Homo sapiens: one gene and its partner. The protein of the gene in region 1 interacts with the protein of each later gene in a biochemical or structural test. Each region holds a gene or a part of one and is shown on either strand. Other genes may lie near its edges. The genes, in order: POU5F1 and FOXD3.

Evidence for each region.
Region 2: the proteins of POU5F1 (region 1) and FOXD3 form a complex in vitro, tested with the Homo sapiens proteins (one study listed by BioGRID).

Annotation. Positions count from the first base shown.
Region 1 is NC_000006.12:31,163,780-31,167,908, reverse strand, and holds the end of POU5F1 (POU domain, class 5, transcription factor 1), read left to right. Parts: intron 1-738; exon of another isoform or gene 739-1,861; coding exon 1,862-1,982; exon of another isoform or gene 1,983-2,207; coding exon 2,208-2,338; intron 2,339-2,622; coding exon 2,623-2,781; intron 2,782-3,041; coding exon 3,042-3,308; 3' UTR 3,309-3,572; downstream 3,573-4,129. UniProt on the Homo sapiens protein: Transcription factor that binds to the octamer motif (5'-ATTTGCAT-3'). Forms a trimeric complex with SOX2 or SOX15 on DNA and controls the expression of a number of genes involved in embryonic development such as YES1, FGF4, UTF1 and ZFP206.
Region 2 is NC_000001.11:63,317,700-63,325,612, reverse strand, and holds FOXD3 (forkhead box protein D3), read right to left. Parts: upstream 3,047-7,913; 5' UTR 2,555-3,046; coding exon 1,118-2,554; 3' UTR 485-1,117; downstream 1-484. UniProt on the Homo sapiens protein: Binds to the consensus sequence 5'-A[AT]T[AG]TTTGTTT-3' and acts as a transcriptional repressor. Also acts as a transcriptional activator. Negatively regulates transcription of transcriptional repressor RHIT/ZNF205.

The DNA of each region.
Region 1 (4,129 bases):
CTATGTCTGCAACAGGATCTACCTAGCCACCAGACCAGCTTTGGGCTCTGGAAGGCCCACTTCAGGGCCTTGCCACATTAGACTCTTGTCCTTTGCTCAAACAATCACCTTCTCTGTCTTTAAAAGTGTCACCCTCCTCCATAATCTCCTTCCCTCCTTTACCCTACTCCTATAGACTGCTTTATTTTTTTTTTAATTTTTGAGATGGAGTCTCACTCTGTCCCTCAGGCTGGAGTGCAGTGGTGCGATCTTGGCTCACTGCAAACTCCACCTCCTAGGTTCAAGCAATTCTCCTGCCTCAGCCTCCTGAGTAGCTGGGATTATAGGGGAGCGCCATGATGCCCAGCTAATTTTTGTATTTTTAGTAGAGACAGAGTCTCACTATGTTGACCAGGCTAGTCTTGAACTCCTGACCTCAAGTGATCTACCCACCTTGGCCTCCCAAAGTGAAGGGATTACAGGCATGACCACTGCGCCCAGACTGCTTTACTTTTTTCCATAATATATATATATATTTTAAATAGAGGCAGCAGGGGTGGGAGAAGGGGCGGCACGGGTCTCACTATGTTACCCAGGCTGCTTTCTAACTCTTGGGCTCAAGCAGTCTGCCCACCTTGGCCTCCCAAAGTGCTAGGATTTACAGACATGAGCCACTGTGCCTGGCCATTTTTTATTTTATTTACTTTTTTATTTTTCAGAGCAGGAGTGGAAGTTTATTATTAAAAAGTTATAGGGCAGGGAAAAAAGGAAAGTGCACTTGGAAGAGATCCAAGTGGGCAACTTGAAGAACAAGTGCCAAATAGCACTTCTGTCATGCTGGATGTCAGGGCTCTTTGTCCACTTTGTATAGCCGCTGGCTTATAGAAGGTGCTCGATAAATCTCTTGAATTTAAAAATCAATTAGGATGCCTCTATAGTGAAAAAGATACAGTAAAGATGAGGGATAATCAATTTAAAAAATGAGTAAGTACACACAAAGCACTTTATCCATTCTTATGACACCTGTTACTTTTTTGCTGTGTTTGTGTGTATGCATGCCATGTTATAGTTTGTGGGACCCTCAAAGCAAGCTGGGGAGAGTATATACTGAATTTAGCTTCTGAGACATGATGCTCTTCCTTTTTAATTAACCCAGAACTTAGCAGCTTATCTATTTCTCTAATCTCAAAACATCCTTAAACTGGGGGTGATACTTGAGTGAGAGAATTTTGCAGGTATTAAATGAACTATCTTCTTTTTTTTTTTTCTTTGAGACAGAGTCTTGCTCTGTCACCCAGGCTGGAGTGCAGTGGCGTGATCTCAGCTCACTGCAACCTCCGCCTCCCGGGTTCAAGTGATTCTCCTGCCTCAGCCTCCTGAGTAGCTGGGATTACAGGTGCGTGCCACCGTGCCCAGCTAATTTTTGTGTTTTTAGTAGAGACGGGGTTTCACCATGTTGGCCATGCTGGTCTTGAACTCCTGACCTCGTGATCTGCCCACCTCGGCCTCCCAAAGTGCTGGAATTATAGGCGTGAGCCACCGCGCCCAGCAAAGAACTTCTAACCTTCATAACCTGACAGGTGTTCTCGAGGCCAGGGTCTCTCTTTCTGTCCTTTCACGATGCTCTGCATCCCTTGGATGTGCCAGTTTCTGGGGGAAGAGTAGTCCTTTGTTACATGCATGAGTCAGTGAACAGGGAATGGGTGAATGACATTTGTGGGTAGGTTATTTCTAGAAGTTAGGTGGGCAGCTTGGAAGGCAGAGGCACTTCTACAGACTATTCCTTGGGGCCACACGTAGGTTCTTGAATCCCGAATGGAAAGGGGAGATTGATAACTGGTGTGTTTATGTTCTTACAAGTCTTCTGCCTTTTAAAATCCAGTCCCAGGACATCAAAGCTCTGCAGAAAGAACTCGAGCAATTTGCCAAGCTCCTGAAGCAGAAGAGGATCACCCTGGGATATACACAGGCCGATGTGGGGCTCACCCTGGGGGTTCTATTTGGTGGGTTCCCCTCTGCAGATTCTGACCGCATCTCCCCTCTAAGGAGTATCCCTGAACCTAGTGGGGAGGGGCAGGGGCAGACTACCCTCACCCATGAAGAGGAGTAGGGAGAGGGAGAAGATGCTTTGAGCTCCCTCTGGGAAGAGGTGGTAAGCTTGGATCTCAGGGTCACAAGGGCCCTGCGTGCTCCCTCACTTTGCTTCTCTTTTGACTGGCCTCCCCCAGGGAAGGTATTCAGCCAAACGACCATCTGCCGCTTTGAGGCTCTGCAGCTTAGCTTCAAGAACATGTGTAAGCTGCGGCCCTTGCTGCAGAAGTGGGTGGAGGAAGCTGACAACAATGAAAATCTTCAGGAGGTAAGGGTGGGAGGGGGATACCCGGGGACCTTCCCTTTCTTGGCCTAATTTCCATTGCTTCCATCACTGGCTCGTAGCTCTCCGTCTTTGGTGCAGTGGTTCTCAGTGGGATGGAGTGAAATTCCTCAGTTCTGCTGGGATAAGGTCCAGAGCCAACCCTTCCAGGATCCTGCCTTTTCACACCACCACCTGGCTCTGCTGACACATCTAGTCACAGACCCCTGTGATGCTGTTACTCAGCAAGTCCAAAGCTTGCCCTTGTCACCCCCTTCCCACCTGCACAGATATGCAAAGCAGAAACCCTCGTGCAGGCCCGAAAGAGAAAGCGAACCAGTATCGAGAACCGAGTGAGAGGCAACCTGGAGAATTTGTTCCTGCAGTGCCCGAAACCCACACTGCAGCAGATCAGCCACATCGCCCAGCAGCTTGGGCTCGAGAAGGATGTGAGTGCCATGTCTCTCTGCGGGCTCCATCTCTTTCCCCTGTCACCACCTCGCTTTCCCTAGCTCTGGCTCCTCCAACTGCTCTAGGGCTGTTGGCTTTGGACAGAATGTCCAAGCAGTCAGGCCTGTCTCAGCTCATTCTCTAATGTCCTCCTCTAACTGCTCTAGGGCTGTTGGCTTTGGATAGAATGTCCAAGCAGAGTCAGGCCCGTCTCAGCTCATTGTCTAATGTCATTCTCCTTTCTGTCATTCACTTGCAGGTGGTCCGAGTGTGGTTCTGTAACCGGCGCCAGAAGGGCAAGCGATCAAGCAGCGACTATGCACAACGAGAGGATTTTGAGGCTGCTGGGTCTCCTTTCTCAGGGGGACCAGTGTCCTTTCCTCTGGCCCCAGGGCCCCATTTTGGTACCCCAGGCTATGGGAGCCCTCACTTCACTGCACTGTACTCCTCGGTCCCTTTCCCTGAGGGGGAAGCCTTTCCCCCTGTCTCCGTCACCACTCTGGGCTCTCCCATGCATTCAAACTGAGGTGCCTGCCCTTCTAGGAATGGGGGACAGGGGGAGGGGAGGAGCTAGGGAAAGAAAACCTGGAGTTTGTGCCAGGGTTTTTGGGATTAAGTTCTTCATTCACTAAGGAAGGAATTGGGAACACAAAGGGTGGGGGCAGGGGAGTTTGGGGCAACTGGTTGGAGGGAAGGTGAAGTTCAATGATGCTCTTGATTTTAATCCCACATCATGTATCACTTTTTTCTTAAATAAAGAAGCCTGGGACACAGTAGATAGACACACTTATCTTGGTTTGTCCTTCAGTTACTGAGGTAGGGATGGGAATATCCAATGCTCATACCCAAGTGACCCTGAAACTAAGGTGCCATTTACACTCCTTAAGGTCACACAACATCAGAGGGAGAGCTGGGATTGCAGCCAAGTTTATTTGTACAGGGCCCTGTGATAGGCTAGTTCCCAAAAGCCTGTGATGCAAGAACTTTTGCCCATAGACTCAGTCACCATGTAGCTGTTACCTGTTCAGAGCTGGCTTTTTGCTTTCCCACCCTACTCTGGAATTCTTAAATGGCTTTATACTTAGAAATCATCTTATTTCTGTTGAACCTAGATCACCCCAACCAGAAACTTCTATTAATACTTTGTGCTTTCTTGATACCAGGGTCTATTTGGTTTCCACTTAAGGTTTTTGCATACTCTGCCCATAAGTGACTCATTAGTTACTCAAGTTTTATTCCTGGCTCTGCCACTAGTTCATTAGGGGTCTTTGCCCCAGAGTCATTTCTTCCATTTTAAAAACTTGGGCTCATTAAATCTAGGTAGGAAAGGGCGGGTGTGGCAGGTTT
Region 2 (7,913 bases), on another chromosome or scaffold:
TAATTTCAAAAATCTAAGATTTAAATGTTAAAAAGAGGGATGTTTGGAATTTACTTACTTTTCAAAGGATAATTGAAATGACCAAGAACTCTCTCATTTGGGAAGTTTTCATTGTGGAAGATACAAGTCTAGTCATTTTTTAAAAAAATTTAAAGACTGCTGTTGTTTCGGTTTCTTTTTTTAAATGACAGCTTACTTTATCTACAGAAATGTCTGGTCATTTAGATTTAATGGGTTGATATGAATGATATCACTCACATCCTGATTTTATGTGAAAACTAAAAGAAAAATAGTAACACAATTTAAATTAGGCATACTATTTCCTTTCTCCAATTAAAATTTTCTTACACTCAAATTATGAATTTAAAAAGTTTGAAAAGGCCATTACTTGAAATTCCTTGATTTTCTGGGGAGGAGAAAAGGCAAATAAATACCATTTAAAAATCTTGCCATTTACTTCAGACAACTAAATAAAACACTAGGCTGGGCATTTTAAAAATTTATTTACAAAGTTGTGTACAACACGATGGAATAACATTTAGAATACCATATATATTCATTCATATATAAACAGACTTTTATAATAGAATGACACTTTTTGCCTTTTTGAAAATTTTTTATATTTAAAATCTCCCAACGTCTCTATACATTCTTTTCTCAGATAAAACTTCGGAGAGTGAACCTTCAAAAAAAATGAAAGTTCAGAGCTCTAAATCTACGGAATTTGTTTTTTCTTAAAAAAATAAAAACCCCAAAAGGAAAGTCAATAATTTTTTTACAAATATATACAAAGAATTTCCCTCCCATCCCCACGGTACTAAGAGCAGGCGCCGTCGGGGTGCATTTTTGGAAAATTCGGTTTTCGGTTTTACCTGTATGGAAAGCTATCCCCGGCGGGCGCGCGGTGAGTTTGCTCGACCAGCTTAGGTGTGCGCGAGGGGATGGAGGCCGCGGAAGGTAGGCGTTGGGGGCTCAGGGGAAAGGAAATTGGGGAGAGGCAGAGTCCAGGATTGGGCAGCGGGACCGGGACCGGGCTTGGGACAGGGCGCGCAGCCTGGAGGTGCATTTGTTGCTCGAGGCCGCCGCCGGACCCTGGGTCCCGGCCATTGGCGCGTCCCTATTGCGCCGGCCATTTGGCTTGAGCGGCGGCCGCAGCAGCGGCGGCGGCCGAGGCTGCGGGCTGCAGAAACTGTCCGGAGAGTGGCACGCTAAGAATGGGCGCGATGGTGGCAGTCGTCCGGCTCAGCGACAGCGGTTGGTGGGTGGCCATGAGCGCTGCCGACTGCACGGTCCCGGGTGGCCGCAGAAACGACTGCGCCGTGCTGCCGCCCCCTGAACCCCCAGTGCCGCCGGCGACCCCAGCGCCCACCGCCGAGCCCCCAGGAGCCGCGGGGCCCCCACCTATGATGTTCTCGATGCTGAACGACGGCCGCGCGCTTGGCTCGGACTTGATGAGCGACGCGGTGGTGCCCGCGGCGCCCGCTGTGCCCGCAGCGGCCGCGGCGGCGCCCAGGCTATTGAGCTGCAGCTGCAGGCCCGGGCCGAGCTGTGAGCCGAAGGCGGCCGCTTTGCGGCCCAGCTCGCCCGAGGGCAGCAGCGGCACAGCGGGAGGCAGCACCGGTGCCACCGGCGGCAGCGCGTACGGGTACTGGAGCGCCGCCGCAGCAGCCGCGGCCGCCGCCGCTGCCGGGTGCGAATAGGCACCGGCCGCCGCCGCAGGGTGCAGGCCGTAGGGGCGGCCGTAGGGTCCCGCGGCGCCGGCCGCCGCCGCCAGGCTGTAAGCGCCGAAGCTCTGCATCATGAGCGCCGTCTGCTCGCGCAGGTGCTCCTGCTGGTGGCGCTTGAAGCGTTTCCGGCGCCGCAGGAAGCTGCCGTTGTCGAACATGTCCTCGGACTGCGGGTCCAGGGTCCAGTAGTTGCCCTTGCCCGGGTTGCCCGGCTCGCGGGGGATCTTGACGAAGCAGTCGTTGAGTGAGAGGTTGTGGCGGATGCTGTTCTGCCAGGCGGGGAACTTCTCCCTGTAGTAGGGGAAGCGGTTGCTGATGAACTCGCAGATGCCGCTCAGGGTCAGCTTCTTCTGCGGGCTCTGCAGGATGGCCATGGTGATGAGCGCGATGTACGAGTAAGGCGGCTTCACTAGGCTGTTCTTGGGCTTGCTCGGGGCCAGGCCTCCCGCCGAACCGCTGCCCGCGCCAGGCCCGCCGCCGCTCGCGCCGCCCTCCTCGCCGCCAACACCGCCCTTGCAGCCGTCCGCCTCCGGCGCGCCCACGTCGCCCCCCGGTCCGGCCCCGGCTCCGGCCGCCTCCTTGGGCAATGTCAGGGGCTGCTGGTGGGGCGGCTGAGGCTGTCCGTGATGGGGTGCCGCCGGGGGCACCTCGTCCGCCTCGTCCAGGCGCAGCTCCGGCGGCCCCGCGGGGCTATCGCAACCTGCGTCGCTGTCCTTCTCTTCCAGCCCGTCGTCGCCCTCGCCCACCACATCGATGTCCACGTCCTCGGCCGTCAGCACCGTCTGGCCGGACATGTCGCTGGCGCTGCCGCCGCCGGAGAGGGTCATCCCTCCTCGGGGTTGGTAGCGGCGGCGGGGAGGGGGCAGCGGGCGATGAGGGTGTTCGGGGGCTGCCACGGAGCTCAGGGGAAGAGGGTTTGAGTGCCCCCGAAAGATGGGGGGCAGGGAGAGGGGAGGGGGCCGCAGGTGGCTTGGGGCCCGCTGGGCTCAGCTCACACTCGGCGGCCCCGCATCGCGTGGCGCGGGCTCTGCCGTCCGCCCCCAGCGGCCGCGCTCCGCGAACTCCTGCCGTCCCTGGCGCTCGGTACTAGGCGCTCGCTACCGCTCCCGGCCCCGGCGGTTCTCCACGCCGCGCCCCCTCACTTAGCCCGCCTTCCTCGGCCTCTGGCCCTGGCGTGGGGCGCAGGAGCGGTCCAGGCGGGCGCGGGACGCCGGGCGCCGAGCAGCTCGGGAGGGCGCGGGCAGGGACAGTAGCGGGGGGGCAGGGGGCTGGGTGTCAGGGACGCCGAAGCCCCGGTAGTCGAAAGTCCCGTTTTAAGGACTGGCCTGATAGATTACTTTCTACTTAAAGATCCAGCGGGAGGCGGGGCCACGTGACCGTGCGTGACGTCAGGGCCGCGGCCGAGCCGGCCAAACTCAAGTTGGTTCAGGGAATTGTCAACAAAGGGACGAGAGACGCGCAACTCCGCTCCGCACTGTGCGCCAGCATCCCCGGGGCACGGAGGGCGCTGCGGCCCGCCCGGAGACCCCCCCACCCAGGCTGGATCCGGGCCCTGGGGCCCAGGGAGCGGGTGGGTGTGAGTGTGGGTGGGTGTGAGCGAGTCAGGGCGTGGGCCTGGGAGCGTCCGCGGGACTGTGCGACTGTCGCTGCCCTGCCTTCCCCGCCCCCTCTCCCTTCCGCCCTTCTCCCCCCCACTTTGTCACACTCCTTAGACAGGGACTGGGCGACCTAGAACGAGGTTCCCATATCGTGTTTTAAAAAGCAAAACTTAGTCTCTGTTTTGCTTTTTGTTTCATTGTTTTTAGCTTTAAAGAGTAAGAGCAGCGCACCCGGCTCCCTCCTGCTAATTAGATTTCAGATTCCCCTCTGGCCTCAGTGCTCATTCCGGGGAAGACACCTGCTGAGATGTCTTTTTCCCCCTCCCCCAACCAAACCACTCAGGTCCTACCTGCTCTTTCCCGGCTTGATGCGGGCGTGTTTTCCTGTATGTATTTTTTCGTGCGGCCACAAAAAGCATCAGCTGGGGTTCCCGAAGGTCAGAAAATGGCTATTGATTAATCTACTAGAATAGTTGCCGAGAGAAATAAAAACGACGTAAAATAGCAGGGAACCTATAAATAAAGAAGCCATAACTGGCTACTTGGAGTTGTTAAACGACTTAGCATATGAAAAAATCGGAAATGAGGCGCTGGGGAAGGAGCTGGGATTGGCAGCGGCCTGGGTAAGTCGAGTGGATCCGGGAAGAGGCCTGGTGTCTTCAGGTTAGACGCAGCGCCCAGGGGCGGCTGAAGAAACGTGAGGGGTGCGGGCAGTGACTTCCCGGGCGGCGGGCATGGCCTTGGGGGAACCTGGGCAGACTTGGGCATGCCAGCATGCTGGGATCTCCGTTGCTGCCAGCTAACGTGGATTTTCTTCTCTTAAGGTGTGGACAAATCCTCCAAGATTTAACTTCCAAGAAAACCGGCGGCGGAGCGGGTGGAGGAGGCGAGGATGTGTGGCCAATGCACGCGGAGTGCAAGGCAAGTCAGTGATAGTAGGAAAAACTGTGGGGATTTCACTGGGACTGGAGGGGGAGGCACCGCAAACCGACCCCCAAGTGCGTGGCTGGGGTGCGTGGACCTCACACCTCCAAGGAAAGTCAGTGCTCTTGACGCGGTGAATCAGCGATGCGCCTCCTCTTTCCTCCCTCATTTAGGCCGCCTAGTTGGGAGCCGCAAGAGCCTGCCTGGTGTGGCAGGCACACGGAACCCAATCCCTGTCTGTCCGCTGCGGCCTGGGAGGGGAGCGCCGGCCTCACCAGAGGAAGGAGCACGAGGGGAGGAGTTCCGAGAGGAAATAATTAGTGAAATATTTGCAGAAGATGCTGGGATGTGGATTTAATTCCGGATGGACAGTGGTGCTTCTGATTCCCTCAGTCTGTTTCCCCACCCACGATCTCCTCTTTCCTTGGCCTAGACACACCAAAAATAATTCAATAAAATAAAAATAAAAATTTAAAAATCTGTAAACTTGCTTCATTACAGGCATTGAGACACACAGATTGACTTTCATCCCCATTAGACAGTTTCCCAGGATATAACACTACTCATCTGAGGCTGGGAGCAGGGTAGGGGGTGGTGACACTATCCTGAGACGCCCGCCAACCTCCACAGTTTTTCTTTATCTAAATGATCCCGAGGTTGCACACGGCCCTAAAACGCATCTCAGAGTTGATTTCCGTAGCTCCACAGCTTTGTGGCCCGCAGGCTCCGAACCGTTTACAATGCCGTCTAGACAGCTTTCCGCGAAACCGACCCGAGCTGAGCTGGCTGGCCATCGCCCAGGACTGCAGAGGTCGCGTCTGCAACTGCCTCAGCAACCGAAGTGTCGGAAGGTCCAAAAAAAAAAAAAAAAAAAGCTAAAAAGCGGAAATTTACACATTCAGGAACCTCCTTTGCTCTGCTTGGGTTGCCCAGCCCTAAAGGCAGGGGCCCGGGGCGCAGCGCTGGCCCTGCCGCGGCCTTGGTGGCTGGGCCCGCGTGGACTAGTATGTGTGGATGCGCGCCGGAGGATGGTGGCTACAGGGCTCCCCTCACCGGTCTCGAAGTAGTCTCCAAATGAGCCTAATTTCGATTCCGCCGTCCGCAGAGGCTAGCTCTCTGGACTCCCTCCACGCTGCTGGTCGCTGCCTCCTACCCTCCCTCTGCCACGGCCCAGCCTGATCCGTCCATTCCCCGGTGTCTCCTTGGAACCTCCCTGGGGAAGGGGGTGGAGGACGAACAACTCCCAGCTGCCGGTTCCATTTGTTGCGCTTTTTTCCTTCGACACAATAAAAGTCAAATTAATTGATTCATACCATTAATTACGGCGCGTAGCGTGAAAAGCAACGCTTCCCCTCGGTTAGAGATCTATTGTGCTAATCTCTTGTTCAATCAGTGTTACCATCTGATGCTGGGTCCGGCCCTTACAGAAACTTTTCGACTCGATTAGCTAAATGATGAGACGTGCACAACCTACTGGCTGCGGCCCCGACGTCCCGCGCCCGCGCCGGCCTAATATCGATTTCCAGCGGAGGCAGAGGATTTTTCCGCGGCCGCTCTCGGCTCAGGAACCGGCCGCCGGCTTTCTCCCTCCAGGCGGACCATAGCGCCTGCACAACCTCCGGGGGCGGGAAGGAGGCGAAGCGGCGGCCGGGGAGGGCGACAGGAAGGTTCCTGCTGGCCTTGACGCAGGAGGCCGCCCCAGCGGAAGGGTCCGATCCCGACGCGGTGCAGGGTCCTGCCGGAGACCGGCTAGATGTCGGGCTAAATAAATTGTTTGCCGCGTAGTTGCAGTTTGCAGCTAAAAGCTCACAGGTCGTCAGTTACCGCCAAGCTGTAGGACAGAGACGGAAGAAGCGAGACAGATACAGAGAGAAAGTGAGACACATGTAGTGGGGGGAAGAAAATGTGATAAAGGGTGTATGTGGATAAAAAGTTTCTGAGTCTCAAAGGGTTATTGGAGAGATAGAGGGAGAATGAGTAGACACACACACGCAATTATGAGTTTGAGTGACTCTTTGAGTCTCAACAAGCGAACTTCCCAGGAGAGATTTAAAAAGGAAGATGGCAGCCAGCTGCCTCACCTGCTCAAATGTTTGAAATGTTTCAACCAAAGGAGAATGGAATGAAACCCCTTCGGTTCCTCTGGAGCGGGCAGAGTACATGGTACCCCGCTGGGAAAGCCACCTGGACGCGGTGGGAATGAGGGGTGCGGGGAGTGGGGATCTAGGTTCTAGCAACAGGAGGCAAGAAGAATGGAGTCCGGATCGATAGGAAGGAAATTGAGACGTCTCCAGGGGAGGGGAGATTTAGTGTGTGCGTCCAGTGGGGGGATGGGGGGGAAGAAATGGATAGAAAAATTTATGATGGAGAAAGGGAAATTAATTACAGCTCATTTTGGGTTCTTAGGTGGTCAACACTGGAGGAGGGGCACGGTTAGAGTGCGGAAGGCGGGAATTGCCCACCTACCCCTCACCAGGCCCAAGTGAACCCATATGCCTCTTTTCTCCTCTTTTAAGTCAGAGACAGTGCCAGTGGCTTGAATAAGTCGTTGGCGCGATGTGAGATAGAATCATCATGCCCGCGCGCGGGTGCACTTTTCTTACAATACGGGGAGTTGGGACCAGGTTCCGCGGAGTGAAGGGCGCGTCCCCCACCAAGAGTAGTTACTCTTTGTCCAAGAGGGAGCAAAACGTGGGTGGGACTATTAGAAAAATTCCCCTCCTTTCTCCCCAACACCCCCGCGCCCGCAACAATCAAAGTCTGCTGCTTCTTGAAAATCTTCATAGATTTGTTAAACTATTACCGGCCTCTTTGTCTGGATGGCCGCCACCAAGGAAGGTGGGAAAGGGCAGAGGTGGTACCCAAGGCCCCAACCCACCCAGATTACTTCCATTTCCCAAAGCGGGGGATTTTCAACTCTCTTACCCACCACTACCCCCTTGTATACCTCTCCGGATCTTTTCGGGGTGGAAAAAAAGAGGCTATTTTAATGTTCTTGTTTGGATTTGCATCTCAAAACTTCATTTATTTTCAAGATGTCTGCCACTCAGGGTCCACGCCAAGGCGTGCCTGTAAATGGCGAGAGACCAAAAGGAAAGGAGGAGAGAAAGAGGAAGAGAGAGAGGATGGTTTCGAATTTATTTATATTGGAAATATATAAACATCCATTCTGTAAAAGGCAACACGTTTAATTAACGATGAGAGAGCAGTTAGGGGCAGAAAGCTAGTAAAATTGTGTGATAAATTTATGGCATTGTTAGCGTGCTTTTAATTATGGCTATTATGTTAATTATTTCACATTAGCATGGAGTTATCAGCAGCATGTCGGATTTAATAAAAACGAGCCTTTCTCTCGAAAATTGTTCTTTTCATCCACGAGGAGAAAGGTCCTGGACAGGATCGGGGCTTAAAAATGACTTGGCATTGAAAGCCGGAGTCTTTCTGACACCGTTTGGAGCGATGCGGCCAGGCCCGGCTGTCCGCTGGGTCCCTCCAGGCTACCGGCAGCTCGAGGAGGAGCCCAGGGCTGGGTTTTTAGGAATTCACCATTTTCACCCCCTTCGGAGCCGACACTTCATCATGCGAGATCATTCTGTCAAACAATATGATGCTGCTCATTTTTATCTGTCCCGCTTTACAAAATCCCCATTCAGCCGGCCGAGGA